3 separate regions of the Homo sapiens genome follow, and all the other regions are reported to be linked to region 1. The links are microRNA targets in miRTarBase. Many come from high-throughput screens and were not tested one by one. Region 1 holds a microRNA gene; each other region holds the end of a gene's coding sequence.
Evidence for each region. The annotated mature microRNA hsa-miR-6847-3p reads GGCUCAUGUGUCUGUCCUCUUC and lies in region 1 at 1,170-1,191, opposite strand. An mRNA with a match to its seed (bases 2 to 7 or 8) in the 3' UTR can be bound and repressed. Matches are read on the target gene's strand: a 7mer-m8 pairs with bases 2 to 8, a 7mer-A1 pairs with bases 2 to 7 and ends in A, and an 8mer does both.

Region 2: miRTarBase lists SCUBE3 as a target of hsa-miR-6847-3p. Seed matches in the 3' UTR shown: 7mer-m8 at 543-549.
Region 3: the mRNA of TMEM169 is a reported target of hsa-miR-6847-3p. Seed matches in the 3' UTR shown: 8mer at 1,158-1,165.

The regions. Positions count from the first base shown.
Region 1 is chr8:144,076,898-144,081,108 of GRCh38, reverse strand. MIR6847 (microRNA 6847) reads right to left here and starts at 1,235; the gene lies at 1,167-1,235. It overlaps EXOSC4 (exosome component 4), which reads right to left and starts at 2,437. Exons shown (of 3, transcript NM_019037.3): 1 at 2,210-2,437; 2 at 960-1,166; 3 at 461-867. The coding sequence starts at 2,380. The coding sequence ends at 508. It overlaps LOC124902038 (a long non-coding RNA gene), which reads left to right. Exons shown (of 2, transcript XR_007061141.1): 2 at 1-3,110. RefSeq lists enhancers at 2,366-2,665, 2,676-2,725.
Region 2 is chr6:35,247,979-35,251,978 of GRCh38, reverse strand. SCUBE3 (signal peptide, CUB domain and EGF like domain containing 3) reads right to left here. Exons shown (of 22, transcript NM_152753.4): 22 at 1-3,423. The coding sequence ends at 3,274. The region is part of intron 1 of SCUBE3-AS1 (SCUBE3 antisense RNA 1); the gene reads left to right. Among named protein-coding and RNA genes, the nearest start is that of SCUBE3-AS1, 9.5 kb to the left of the region's middle. RefSeq lists an enhancer at 3,748-4,000.
Region 3 is chr2:216,100,201-216,104,411 of GRCh38, forward strand. TMEM169 (transmembrane protein 169) reads left to right here. Exons shown (of 3, transcript NM_001142311.2): 3 at 1-2,583. The coding sequence ends at 342. Among named protein-coding and RNA genes, the nearest start is that of XRCC5, 7.0 kb to the right of the region's middle.

The sequences.
Region 1 (4,211 bases):
TGGCTGTTGTACTTTCAGAGCCCAAGGTAAGCAGCAGGAAAAGCCCAGGGGGCTCCAAACCATAGTCCAGAGGTTGTGGGACATGGCCCCCACATCCCTAGGGTGGGTACCCAGAGCCAGCTGAGTTCTTCCTCAGCCCTTTGCTCAGGGCCCCCGATGTGCTGGAATAAGGGTAACAGATTCCTCAGTCTAATGGCCTGGCTCATCTTGCCAGGCCCTGCCTCCTGCTCAGCTGCCTTGAGTCCTTACTGGGACATGCTGCTTTTTCCACCCAGGGCCTCCCCTACAGAAACCCCCTAATCCACTGTTCTCTTCAGGGTTTGAATCAGGCTACACAGAGATAGGCCGTTCATGTGTGGGCGAGGGTCCCTAATCATCCCCAGGAGCCAGCACCAGACCAGGCTCTGCCAGCCTTCACATGGCTCTGAAGTGCTGTTAGGTGATAACGTACAGTGAGGGGTGTGTGGGCAGAGGAGGGTTTTATTCTGGACATGGGTGGCTGGGTGGTCAGTCCCCCAGCAAGATAGAGGCCTCACGCACATGCTGCCGGACCACTCGATCTAAGAGGGTGTGCACATCTCGGGCAGCCTGGGCAGCAGCCTCCAACACCCGCTCCAGGTGGTCCTCGTGCAGCCGGGCATCCATCTCAAGCAGCGCAATCTGTCCTGAGGCTGGCAGCAGGGCCAGGGCCAGCTGGGGGCCACCAGCTGCTTCCTCCACATGGCTGAGGTCCGCCAGGGCTGTGCCGTCCACGAAGCCAGCTGAGCACGCACACACAAAGTCTCTCATGGGTATCCCGGCATCCAGCACTGCCAGCGTGGCTGCATTCACACAAGCTGCATAGGTCCCACCATCTGCCTGTAGCACCTGCAGGGAACCCAGGGTGTCAGTCTATCAGACTCCCTCCCCAACCCCATCACACCCTTCCCTCCCTGGATTGACGGCTGCAGCTGGCTCACCTGCACATAGATATCAATCTGGGAGCGTGGGTGCAGCTGTGTGAGGATGGCTGCTTCGAAAGTCTGGCGGAGCTGCAGGCCCATCTCACAGGACTTACGGTCCCCATGTGGCCGTCGCTTGCGCTCACCTGTGCTGAAGGTCGCTGAACTATATTGACAGTTCACTAGGGCCCTGTCCGGCAGGGCTCGAGCCCGGGAGCCCCGGATCTGGAAGAGGACAGACACATGAGCCAGGCCCACTCCTTCCAGCTCACACTCCACTGTCCTCTGTGGGTCTGCCTCTCCCTCCACTTTCAATGCCTCAGCAAGGGGCAACTGCGTTACCTCCAAAACAAAGCCCCCTGTTTTGCGCTCTCTGTCTTGCATGTGTCGCCCTCTGGCACCTTTTAATTGGCTTCCTTGTGTCCATCCTTGCCCCATTCCCTGCCAACCCAAGTTTACAAACATCAACGCTGCTTCTGTCTCACCTACACACTCAAATCCTAACTACCTTACAAAGGTTTCACATTACATATGAAATAAGATCCCAAATCATTTCCCTACTCTACAAAACCCTAAGTCCTCACCTCCCCGGGAACCCTCAACCTGATTTGGAGTTATCCCCTCTTTCCCCACCAGCAGTCTTTCTGCTCTGCATAAGTGCCTTGCTTGTTTTCACCACCGTGGTCTTCGCCCTTCTGGTTCCCTCCGCCTGGAAAGCAGAGCTCCCACACTCATGCGCTAAGCAAACACTCTTTCAATACCTTCGCTGGCCAGGCAGTTACAGCGCTGGAAGCACAGTAATGAAACCAGATAGTTTTATGTAAAGTTCCTTTCTTTAGGAAGCTTATGTTCCAGCGAGGAAACAAAGGGGAAAATGCTTAAGCAAAATAGGCATTTGAGATTGTAGGTGCACAAAACAAAGGGTTTATTGTAGGGCGAGAAGTACCGCGTGGATAATAAGGTCGTCTGGGAAGGAGTGACGTCGGAGTAGAGCTGAAAGGAGAGGGAGCGAGTGGGGGAGTGCCTAGCACGTTGAAGAGCCGCAAAGAGGAAGGAGGGCGCAGGGACAGAGGCCGATGAGAAAGGCAGGACCACCGCGCAGCACACTAAGGACTTGCGTTTACTCCGAGTGAGATGCGGTGCTGAGCATCGGCTGTGTAGACTGAGGCGCGCCGGCCGTTGCCCCTCAAGTCCCCGAGCCAGCGCTCAGCCCGGCTGCCCCGCAGCTCCCACGGCCACACGATTCCCCATCCCGCGCGCCCACTCGCCTCGTGCGGGCCGTAGACCACAGCCAGTGCCTTGGTGTTGCCCTGCTCAATGTAGGCCGAGCCGTCAGCCTGCGCGAACACGCCCATCCGCGCCTGGATCTTGCGCAGCTCCCCGGCGCGCCGCCCGTCCACCCGGTAGCCCTGGTCCGACAAGAGCTCCAGCCCCGCCATGCTGCCCGGCCGCCAGGTCCGCTCTCTGCCTACTTCTCTGAGCCGCGGGAGAACTACAGCTCCCGGCGGCTCCGACCGCCCGGAATCTACGGTTTCCGGAGGTCCGCCATCACTTCCGGTTCCGGGGAACTACAGCTCTCCGCGGCCCTGACCTCCGTGGATCTGCGGTTTCCGGCGTTCCGCTGTCACTTCCTGTCCTGGTGAACTGGAGTTCACCGCGGCCCCGACCTCCCCGGATCTACGGTTTCCGGCGGTCCGGCTCTACTTCTGTCTCCGGGGAACTGCGGCGGCGCTATCGGGGAAGCAGCGGCTGGGCCCGCAGCCGTTCCCGGAGCTGTGCCACGGGTGCCAGGAGGTGGGCGCCCGCCGAAGGAGGAATTGCCCAGTCACGCCCTCGTGACCAGTGGTGCCTGCATTCAGCCCTTCCCCGCGCCCCAAGTGTGAAAGTGGAAGGATGAACCCAGTGGGGTGCGACACTGACAGGAGAAGGCATTGAGCGGTCCTAGGAAAGTGACCAGGCTGGTGTCCCAGGATGGTCCACACCTGGCACCTCTCCAGTCCTCTCATGCCCTCCCTTTACACCGAGCTTCCACACTGCAGTCAGGTGGGCCTCCCTTTTCCCTTTGAGGATGCAGATTTCCTCATCCTTTCCAGAGAGGGGTTGTATGTCTGTTTATCTCTTGCCACTTAACCTCAGCGGCTTCAAATAATAAAAATCATTCTATTATTATGTGCTGCAATCTGGGGTTATCTAGGCTCAGCTAGATAGTTTGCACTTAGGATCTCTCCTACAGTTGCTGCCAGATGGTAGCTGGGGCTGCAGCCATCCTAAAGCTTTCTCCCTCACATCTTTGGTGGCTGATGCTGGTGGCGGGCCAGGACCTCATCTGTGCCTGTCAGGCAGCACACCTACATGTGGCTTCTCCATGCAACCAGGGCTTCCTTGCAGTATGGCAACTGGGTTCCAAGGGTAGCCTTCCAGGACAACAAGGTGGACAACATGTGCATGGTATTTTTAGGACCTAACCTCAGAAGTCACATAGTGTCCCTCCTGCCACACTCTGTGGGTCAAGGCAGTCAGACAGATCTGCCCAGGCTTAAGGGATGAGGACAGGGACCCCACCCTTCAGTGGGAGGAGTGTCAATATTAGACTGTAGGAAGAGCAGGCGGGCTAGGGAAATGTGGTCTGCTGCAGGGGCCCAAGTTCAGTTGTCACAGCATCCCCTCCAAGGTGGTTAAGCTCTCCTGAAAGACTGAGGCATGAGAGTGAGTGAGCAAGCCACAACCCTGCTGCTGCAGCTGGTCTGAGGCCATGATGGGTCACCACCCTCTGCCACTTGCCACCCCGGATTCCCCACCCTCTGCTCTACAGCCACTCTGCTTATTGTGGAGCCCTTTTCCCCTTTCAGTCTGAGCTCTTACTGTCCCTGTTCTTACTGAGTCATCGTTTTTTTCGTTTGTTTCTTTGTTTTGTTTTGTTTTTTGAGATGGAGTCTTACTCTGCACCCAGGCTAGAGTGCCGTGGCACAATGTCAGCGCACTGCACCCTCCACCTCCAGGGTTCAAGTGATTCTTCTATCTCAGCCTCCCAAGTAGCTGGGAAGGTGGGATTACAGGCACCTGCCACTATGCCTGGCTAAGGTTTTTTTTTTTTTTTTGGAGATGGAGTCTCACTGTCACCCAGGCTGGAGTGCAGTGGCACAATCTCAGCTCACTGCAACCTCCACCTCCTGGGTTCAAACGATTCTCCTACCTCAGCCTCCCAGGTAGCTGGGATTACAGGCATGCACCACCATGCCCTGCTAACTTTTTTTTTGTAGTTTTAGTAGA
Region 2 (4,000 bases), not on the chromosome of region 1:
GAGGCCTCTGGGTTGCTTCATGAAGGGATCCTATTTATACCATCTTTCCATTTCCCTCCAATGGTAAAAACCTCTCTTCTGTCTGACCTGTAAAGACCTAGAATGTCCCTGAGCGTTGACTCCTCATTCAATCCAGTTAACCCCTAGTTTGATGTCCCAGGGCCAGCCTCCTCCATAGATTCAGCAGCAGCTTTGCCTGGGTTCTTAACCCTCCAACTTGGAGGACCTAAATTAAACTTGGTGGACAATAGCAGGTTTTTACCTGCTCACCAAGATCTGCCTTGACATCAATTAAGAAGCCTAGTGGTCTATGCCTTCCGTACTGTGGAACTCATTTGCAGGTCTCATAAGCCATGGAATAAATGGTTGAAGGATGTGTATTTGTATGTATGTATGCATGGTGTGACAGGAAAGGAAGGGAGAAAGGAGAAGCCAGACCCTGAAGGCATAAATTAAGAAGCATGGTCACCGTTTGGCTTTCCAAGAGACGCAAAACGGCTGGCAGAGAGGAATCAGAAAGTTATCCTAGGCTGGGCGCGGTGGCTCATGCCTGTAATCCCAGCACTTTGGGAGACTGAGGCGGGTGGATCACCTGAGGTCAAGAGTTCAAGACCAGCCCGGGCAACATGGTGAAACCCCATCTCTACTAAAAATACAAAAATTAGCTGGGCGCGGTGGCGCATGCCTGTAATCCCAGCTACTTGGGAGGCCGAGGCAGAATTGCTTGAGCCTGGGAGGCGGAGGTTGCAGTAGGCCGAGATAGCACCATTACACTCCAGCCTGGGTGACAGAGCGAGACTCCATCTCAAAAAAAAAAAAAAAAAAAAAGAAAGAAAGAAAGAAAGTTATCCTAGCTTCTGGTGGAGAATTAGGATAGTCAGAGTTGATTAAAGCAGTTTTCATGGTGCTTCCTGGGAAGTACAGAGACACTCATACTAAATGACCATTTCCCTTGTTTGGAAGCAGCCATTTTGCATCTTTACAGTGGCCCTCCTTGACCCAGAAAGACAAAGGTAGCCAGACACTCTACCCACAAGGACCATGATGTTGGCTAATGGTTGTCAGGGAATCTAGCTGTGTCATTGGCTACCTACTGCTATGGCCGTTTTGGCTGATGAATGCTACTGATGGGAGGGCAGGGAGTCAGACTCCTTTATTTAGTGTTGAGTCTCCTGGGGGAGCAGTAGCCTAGGACAGTCACCTAGAAATGAACCTGAGCTGTTCTGTGAGTTACCAGGAGAGTTAAAAAGAAAAAAAAAAAAAAAAGAAATGAACCTGAGGACTCAGTTGGTAGCCTTTGATTGATTGGGACTACAGCTTTGGGGGAACTAGAGTGAGAAAACAGAAAATAATTTTATAGGCAACACTTGGATTAAGGGCAGAATGTGTGCAGGCTTTGGGCTTGGGCATGGACTTGATTCTTCTTCCATTTGATTCTTTCTTCCTTCTGAAAAACAGTAGTTGAGGAAGCTAAGCTTGAAGTCAACTTCAAAGGGAAGTGACCAGAGCCAGGCAAATATCTGATGCCTTCTGTCTTATTCTTGGCTCCCACAGCTTTGTCTCTGGCCTCGGGACCCTGAGTCAGCCCATCCCCAGGTGGTATGTCCTGGTCCTCTTCCATGTGTACACCAGGGGATAACAGGATGAAGACAGGGAAAAGATGGAGGTTTTCCCTACTTGGGGTAGAGAATCACTGACCAGTTCCATTGGCCTCTATAATCATGAGGTCCACACTGACTCCATGGAGAGGCATAGGGATAGCAAGATTGGTTTAGCAAACATAGGTCTCTCTCCTTTCTGCTCCATCAAATCCCCAGAATTACTTTCCTACACATCAGATGCCTCTGCGCAATTACCCTGGATTACCACAGCCAAGGGCTCTAGGTGGCCAGTGGTGGCATAGAGACAGATCAGATGCTCCAGCACTCAAGGTTCATGAGATTCAAAACCGATTTTCTTCCACTCCAAACATACACTCTTTTCTCTTGGGCAGCTATAAATAGGGTTTTGCTAATAGAGGAAGAAGAAACAAAAACAAAAAACAAACCCAGAAAACAAAAACCCCTCCGTCTAGACAACATAGAAAGACTCAAAATGATTGCACTTATTAGGTGTGGACAGGGTGGGCAGGAGGCTCGCCAAGTGCACACACATTCCTTTTGCTGCCCACAGCCTGAGGCCAGAGGTAGGTGGCTCCAGGCTGGCTTCAGAGTGGGGTCCTCTTTGGTGAAGCCCACAAGCCAGCTGGGGCTACAAGGGAAAAACAACTGTAGGGCAAGGCCTAGGCTGGCTTCAGGTCAATAACCATGTTTAAGGACAACATGTAGCAAGGGGAGTAGGGCTCCCCCAGGGAGCATCACATGGGGCTGAGGAGGTGGCTGGGCCAGGGAAGACAAGAAAAGGGATTAGTGTTTGAAGTTGACTTCCAATTGTTCTGTGTCTAGTCCTTTAGATGATACATTTTTTCTTTCTGTTTTCTTTTTTTTGGCAATGCTTTAAAACCTTGTTTCTGTCCTGCAGAGTTACAGTCTTTCTCTCAGGGAGCTACAGCGGGGCATTCACCATGACAATGCCTGCTGCTCTTCCTCATTTAGCCGGTGTCCACTAACTCAGTGTTGTGGGCCATTTGTAAACCCTTATGGAGTAGACCCCAGGCAGACGTAGGGAAAGAAAGAGAGGATCTGTATAGACAAGAAAGCTGGCCATGTGGGAAGTCCAGAGCTCAAACCATGTGCCCCAGAGGACTGGTGCTGGCATTAAGCCTGTAAATCAAAGGCTTCTTTGGCAGGACCCTGGGCTGTTAGAATCACCCTAGGGAGCAGAGCCAGGGGACATTTTGGCCCCTGACTAGCAAGGCACAACCCTATAATGGCAGAAGCCCTTCTTTCCCCTCCCCGTTTCCCACCAGACCCACTTCCTTGATGGGCCTCTAGCACCCTTCCAAGCTGATGGGGTCGGGAATGTGAGCTGGTAAAATGGGCAGTGGAAGGGGCTGTACTGTTTCTTTACATCTCACGGGGACTAGAGCCAGTACTGAATGGCTTTTCTAGGTAGTGTGTTAGAAAAGGGGGAACAGTAGAGAGGCAGGCAGAGAGAGACAAGGAAAGGAAACTAGAAAGACAGAAAGGGAGAGTGCCTGGTTTGTGTAGTGATATTTTTTTTTTCCCTCCAAAAAGAGAGGAGAGAGTTCCTTGTCTGAGGGTAGGGGGCTGCCGGCTCTGAGGGCTAAGGAGTCTGGGGGCTTAAAAAATTGGGTCTCTGAGCCTAGGGTTACTATTTGTAGGGCCTCAGGAAGCTGGAAACTTTGGAGCGGAGCAGCTTGATGAAGGATTTTGGCAGCATCTCCTTGTGTTTCTCTGTGTACTTGAAGTAGTTCTGGGGGTGGGCTAGCACCTCAAAGAAGGCCTTGATGAGCTTCTTGTCCTGCAAAGGATGGCAGGGAGCAATGTCAGCCTCACCGTCGGGGGTGGGAAAGAGAAACACCATGACTCAGCAGCCCTTCTTGATGTCTACTAGGCATCCTATACTGAATATATCCAGAGGGCAACTCTGGATTCCCATTCCCACCATCTGCCCTTATTCTGGAATTCCACAACTGAATCAGTGGCAGCTCCATCCTTCTGTTGCTTAGGCCCCAATCCTTGGAGCCATCCTTGAATCCTCTTTCTTGCTTACAAGTATAGCAAATCCTATTGACTCTACCTTCAAAATATGTCTGGGTCTGACCACTTATCATCTTCCCAAGCCACCACTGTCTCTGACTTGGAGTACTGTAGTAGCCTCCTAACTGGTCTCCATGCTACCTTTGTCCCTCCGTAGACTCTTCTCCCCACAGCAGCCAGAGTGACTTTTTGTGTTTTTAATTAGTTCATCTTTTTCCTGTTTGAAACTCTTCTCTGGTTTCTTTTATCACTCATTGGCAGAATGTGATCTGTATCTTGCTTTCCACCTCCACTCTTGCTCCCTCTGCTGAGCCACACTGGCCTTCTGGAGGTTCCTG
Region 3 (4,211 bases), not on the chromosome of region 1:
ATCACCTGGTACAACATCTTCCTCGTGTATAATGAGGAAAGGACCTTCTGGCACAAGATCTCGTATTGCCCTTGCCTCGTTCTCTTCTATCCAGTGCTCATCATGGCCATGGCTTCTTCCCTCGGCCTCTACGCTGCTGTGGTCCAGCTCTCGTGGTCCTGGGAAGCATGGTGGCAAGCTGCCCGGGACATGGAGAAAGGCTTCTGTGGCTGGCTCTGCAGCAAGCTGGGTCTGGAGGACTGTTCTCCCTACAGCATTGTGGAGTTGCTTGAATCCGACAATATCTCAAGCACTCTCTCCAACAAGGACCCCATCCAAGAAGTAGAAACCTCCACGGTCTAAACTCCCAACAACTTACTCCCTCCTCTGGCCCCAGTAGCCTATATATCATCTTAAAATTCCAGCAGATTATTTCTTTAAATTACCCCCTACTCTCCGCAGTTCTTCTGGGAAATCAGAGTCCATACTGATCAGTTTTACCATCTTGAGGGTTCCAGGAGGGCATGGAGCAGACAAGCAATTGTGCCAAAGCAGTTCACCCAATGGACAAACTCTTTTTGATTCCCTGCCCTAAAATCACCATTTATTTAGGACAATGGAACTCTGCTGTGTGTCGTTTTGGGAGCCTGGAAGTGTTACTGGTGCCTGGAACTGAGGGGAGTATGTGACTAAATGTGTCAGGGAGAATAAAGAACCTCGGGGTAACCAAATCCACCAAGATAATAGACAGGGATGGAGTGAGACATTTAGGAAGCTGGACTACCACAGTGTAGCAGAAGGTAAAGATTTGTGTGTATCATTTAGATTTAGATTTAGCTGCATAGAATTAAAACCCTAAAATATCAGTGGCTTAAACAAGATAGAAGTGTATTTCTTTCTTGTGCAGAAGAAGTCTGGAGGCAGACCATCCTGGGACCCTGTGAAGTAATCCAGGTCCCAGGCTTCTTCTATTTCTCTACCATTAGTAGGATGTGACCCTTCTCACCCTTATCCCCAACATCCCAGTGCTGATTACATCTTCAGCCATCACATCCATGTTTCTGATAAAATAGAGGAAAGGGCAGAGAAGCACACACCCTTCCTGTTCAAGGAGACTTCCCAGAAGTCCCACTCGATTCTTCTTATATCTCATTGGCAAGACCTCAGTCACATGATGTCATGAGCAAAAGAGGCTGGAAATGTAGTTGTTTGGCTGGGTAGCTATATTCTCAGCTAAATACTGGGTTCACGCTAATTGGCAAGAAAAAGGAAGAATGGTTATTTGGGTTTTGTTTTGTTTTGTTTTGTTTCGCTTTAGAGACGGAGTCTCACTCTGTTGCCGAGGCTGGAGTGCAGTGGCACTATCTCGGCTCACTGCAACCTTCGCCTCCTGGGTTCAAGCAATTCTTGTGCCTTGGCCTCCCCAGTAGCTGGGATTACAGGTGCGTGCCACCATACCCGGCTAATTTTTGTATTTTTTTTTTAGTAGAGATGGGGTTTCACCATGTGCCCAGGCTGGTCTTGAACTCCTGACCTCAGGTGATCCGCCTGCCTCGGCCTCCCAAAATGCTGGGATTGTAGGCAAGAATGGTTATCTTGGTAGGCAAGTCAGAATCTTTGCCTCACAATGATCATTTAAATACATTCAGAACCCCCAAACTGCTAATATGGTTTTATTTATTTATTTATTCATTCATTTGTTTATTCATTTATTTATTTAGGCCTGAATCTTACACAGAGAATTTATATATAGATATTAGCTACATATACTTTGAATATGCTATACATCGATATTAGCACCTCACGTACTTTGCAATTAAGCTTCTGTAATGTCATGTGATTTGTTTTTGGAAAGGAATAGTGGACAGGAGAGTACAATTTATAATAGTAGCATAACTCTTTGTCCTGGTGGTGGAGGTGGGACGAGGTGGTGATATTTAACCTAGATTAAAGACCAGGAAGGGAGGAATTGCATCTGCCAAAGTTTCCTCCAACAGCGATCAGTAGCCCTAAGTACAAAGAAGCCAGATTTAGCCTTCTGTTGTTTGGCAAAACCTCACTCAGAGCTTTACTCCCTCAGACCTTTCTGAGTTTAACCACAGACATGATCTTTGCTGTGCTGAGAAACTTGTGTCTACCTGGCCTGTAGGGAGTGTAAACTAGATTAATACAGATTAACAGACTCTGAACTTAAAAAAAAAAATCACTCCTAAGGGTGTCCTTCTAATTTCAAAATATCAACTCCTAAGAGGTCAGCAGAATTTGGAGATTTGGGTCCTTATAAGAATAGCTGGTGCTCTTTTCTTGTTCATGTCTCAAAACAAAGCTGTTGAGAGAACTGCTGCGATGAATCAAACCAGAGGAGTTTGTCATGCTCCCCACAGAGAGCCCAGGACATTTGCCTGATGTATGGTGCTGAGCTCCACCTTCAGAGGAACTCTCTCTTTTTTTTTTTTTTAAATAACTATTATTAGCTTGACAAGAAAAAAAAAGTGCCCAACAGTTTTAGTGTTAATCTTGGTGCTCTATGGTGCATTAGCAGAGATATGAACAATTAAATGAAGACAAAGAAAATAAAAATAAAGTCTGATTAACTTTTGCTCATTTTGTCTTTGAGGCTCTTCAAAATTGCTTTGAATGCTATGGTTTGCAGAAAAAGGGTGAGCATGATGGCTGTCCTATATGTATGTAATGATTTTAATATGAATCCTTGTGTCTGGACTCTTTCCATGCTTCACTAATTTTGGGGAATTCTATTTAGGTGGACTGTTTTCACAAACCACACTAGAAACTTGCAACCACATTTGTCCCATTTTTCTGGGGTTGGGGAAACCAATGGGAAAAGCCAAAAAGTTGTGATTAGGACACAGGTAAAGTGGCTGTGGTGCCATGGAAGAGTGTGGGATGATGATGAGATCATACCCAAGAGATACCTAGATAAAGTTGACATGGCCTTCATCCTAGTTGGGCTCATCATCTAGTGGAAGAAATAGGCTTGTAAATTAAAACCATTTCAAAGGGGTTCTATAGAGGTATGTAAAAGCCTAGACTAGAGGAAGGAAAAACAGAACCAAACAGAACCAAAGCATCTCATTTTTGCTCTCAGCAAACACCACAGAGACCATCAGAGGAGAAACTGGAGAGTTCAATACCATATTTGAACAATTCTTTTGGCTCATAGTTGCCTAATCATCGTGGTGAATATCAAGGAAGATGACTATATTTTCCAGTTGCTTAGCAGCCATAATGTGCTGAGCTGGATAAACCATGTCTGGCCCATAGGGTGACACTGATGTGTTTCCAAGTCATCTTGTCTATTGACATTAGGTAGCACCCTTCATTTCACTTCACATCCAAGAAGAATAAAACCCATGATTTTCTATAAAACAAGATTCTAAATCTTAAAAATAACCAATTTCAGATGATGTGAAAGTTTCATTCTGCCATTTTGGAATGGCCACCCAGAGCTTAATTTGTGCAGTGTTGAAAAATATTAGTGGACATCTTACTACTCACATCTGTTTGGGATATAAACTTTTTTTTTTGAGATGGAGTTTCGCTCTTGTCGCCCAAGCTGGAGTGCAATGGTGCAATCTCCGCTCACTGTAACCTCCGCTTCCTGGGTTCAAGTGATTCTCCAGCAGCTGGGATTACAGATGCGCCACCACCATGCCTGGCTAATTTTTGTATTTTTAGTAGAGATGAGGTTTCACCATGTTGGCCAGGATGGTCTCGATCTCTTGACCTCAGGTGATCCACCCGCCTCAGCCTCCCAAAGTGCTGGGATTACAGGCATGAGCCACCAAGCCCAGCCAGGACATAAACTTTTATTTCATATCTGTACTCTGTTAATATTCTACTTATTTTCTCAGTTACCCATATAACCATTGTAACAGCTCTCTGTCAGAACACAAAGCCTGTATATTTTAATTTTTATAGTGGTCAGGAAGTCATTACTCATAGTTCACGTTCAAGGTAATACCAAATGCAAACATATTCCAGCAACTTAAATTATAATTACAAAATAAAATTTTTATTTGCCTTTATTAACTACCTGAAGGGGAACACATGGTCTACATTGTAGCAATAGTTCAAAAAAATCTCTGCTGTTTCAGTTATCTATTGCTGCTGTAACATCTAAAACACAATGGCTTAAAATAACAGCTTGGTGTGCACCTATGGTCCCAGCCCCTCGGGAGGCTGAGGTGGAAGGATGGCTTGAGCCCGGGAGG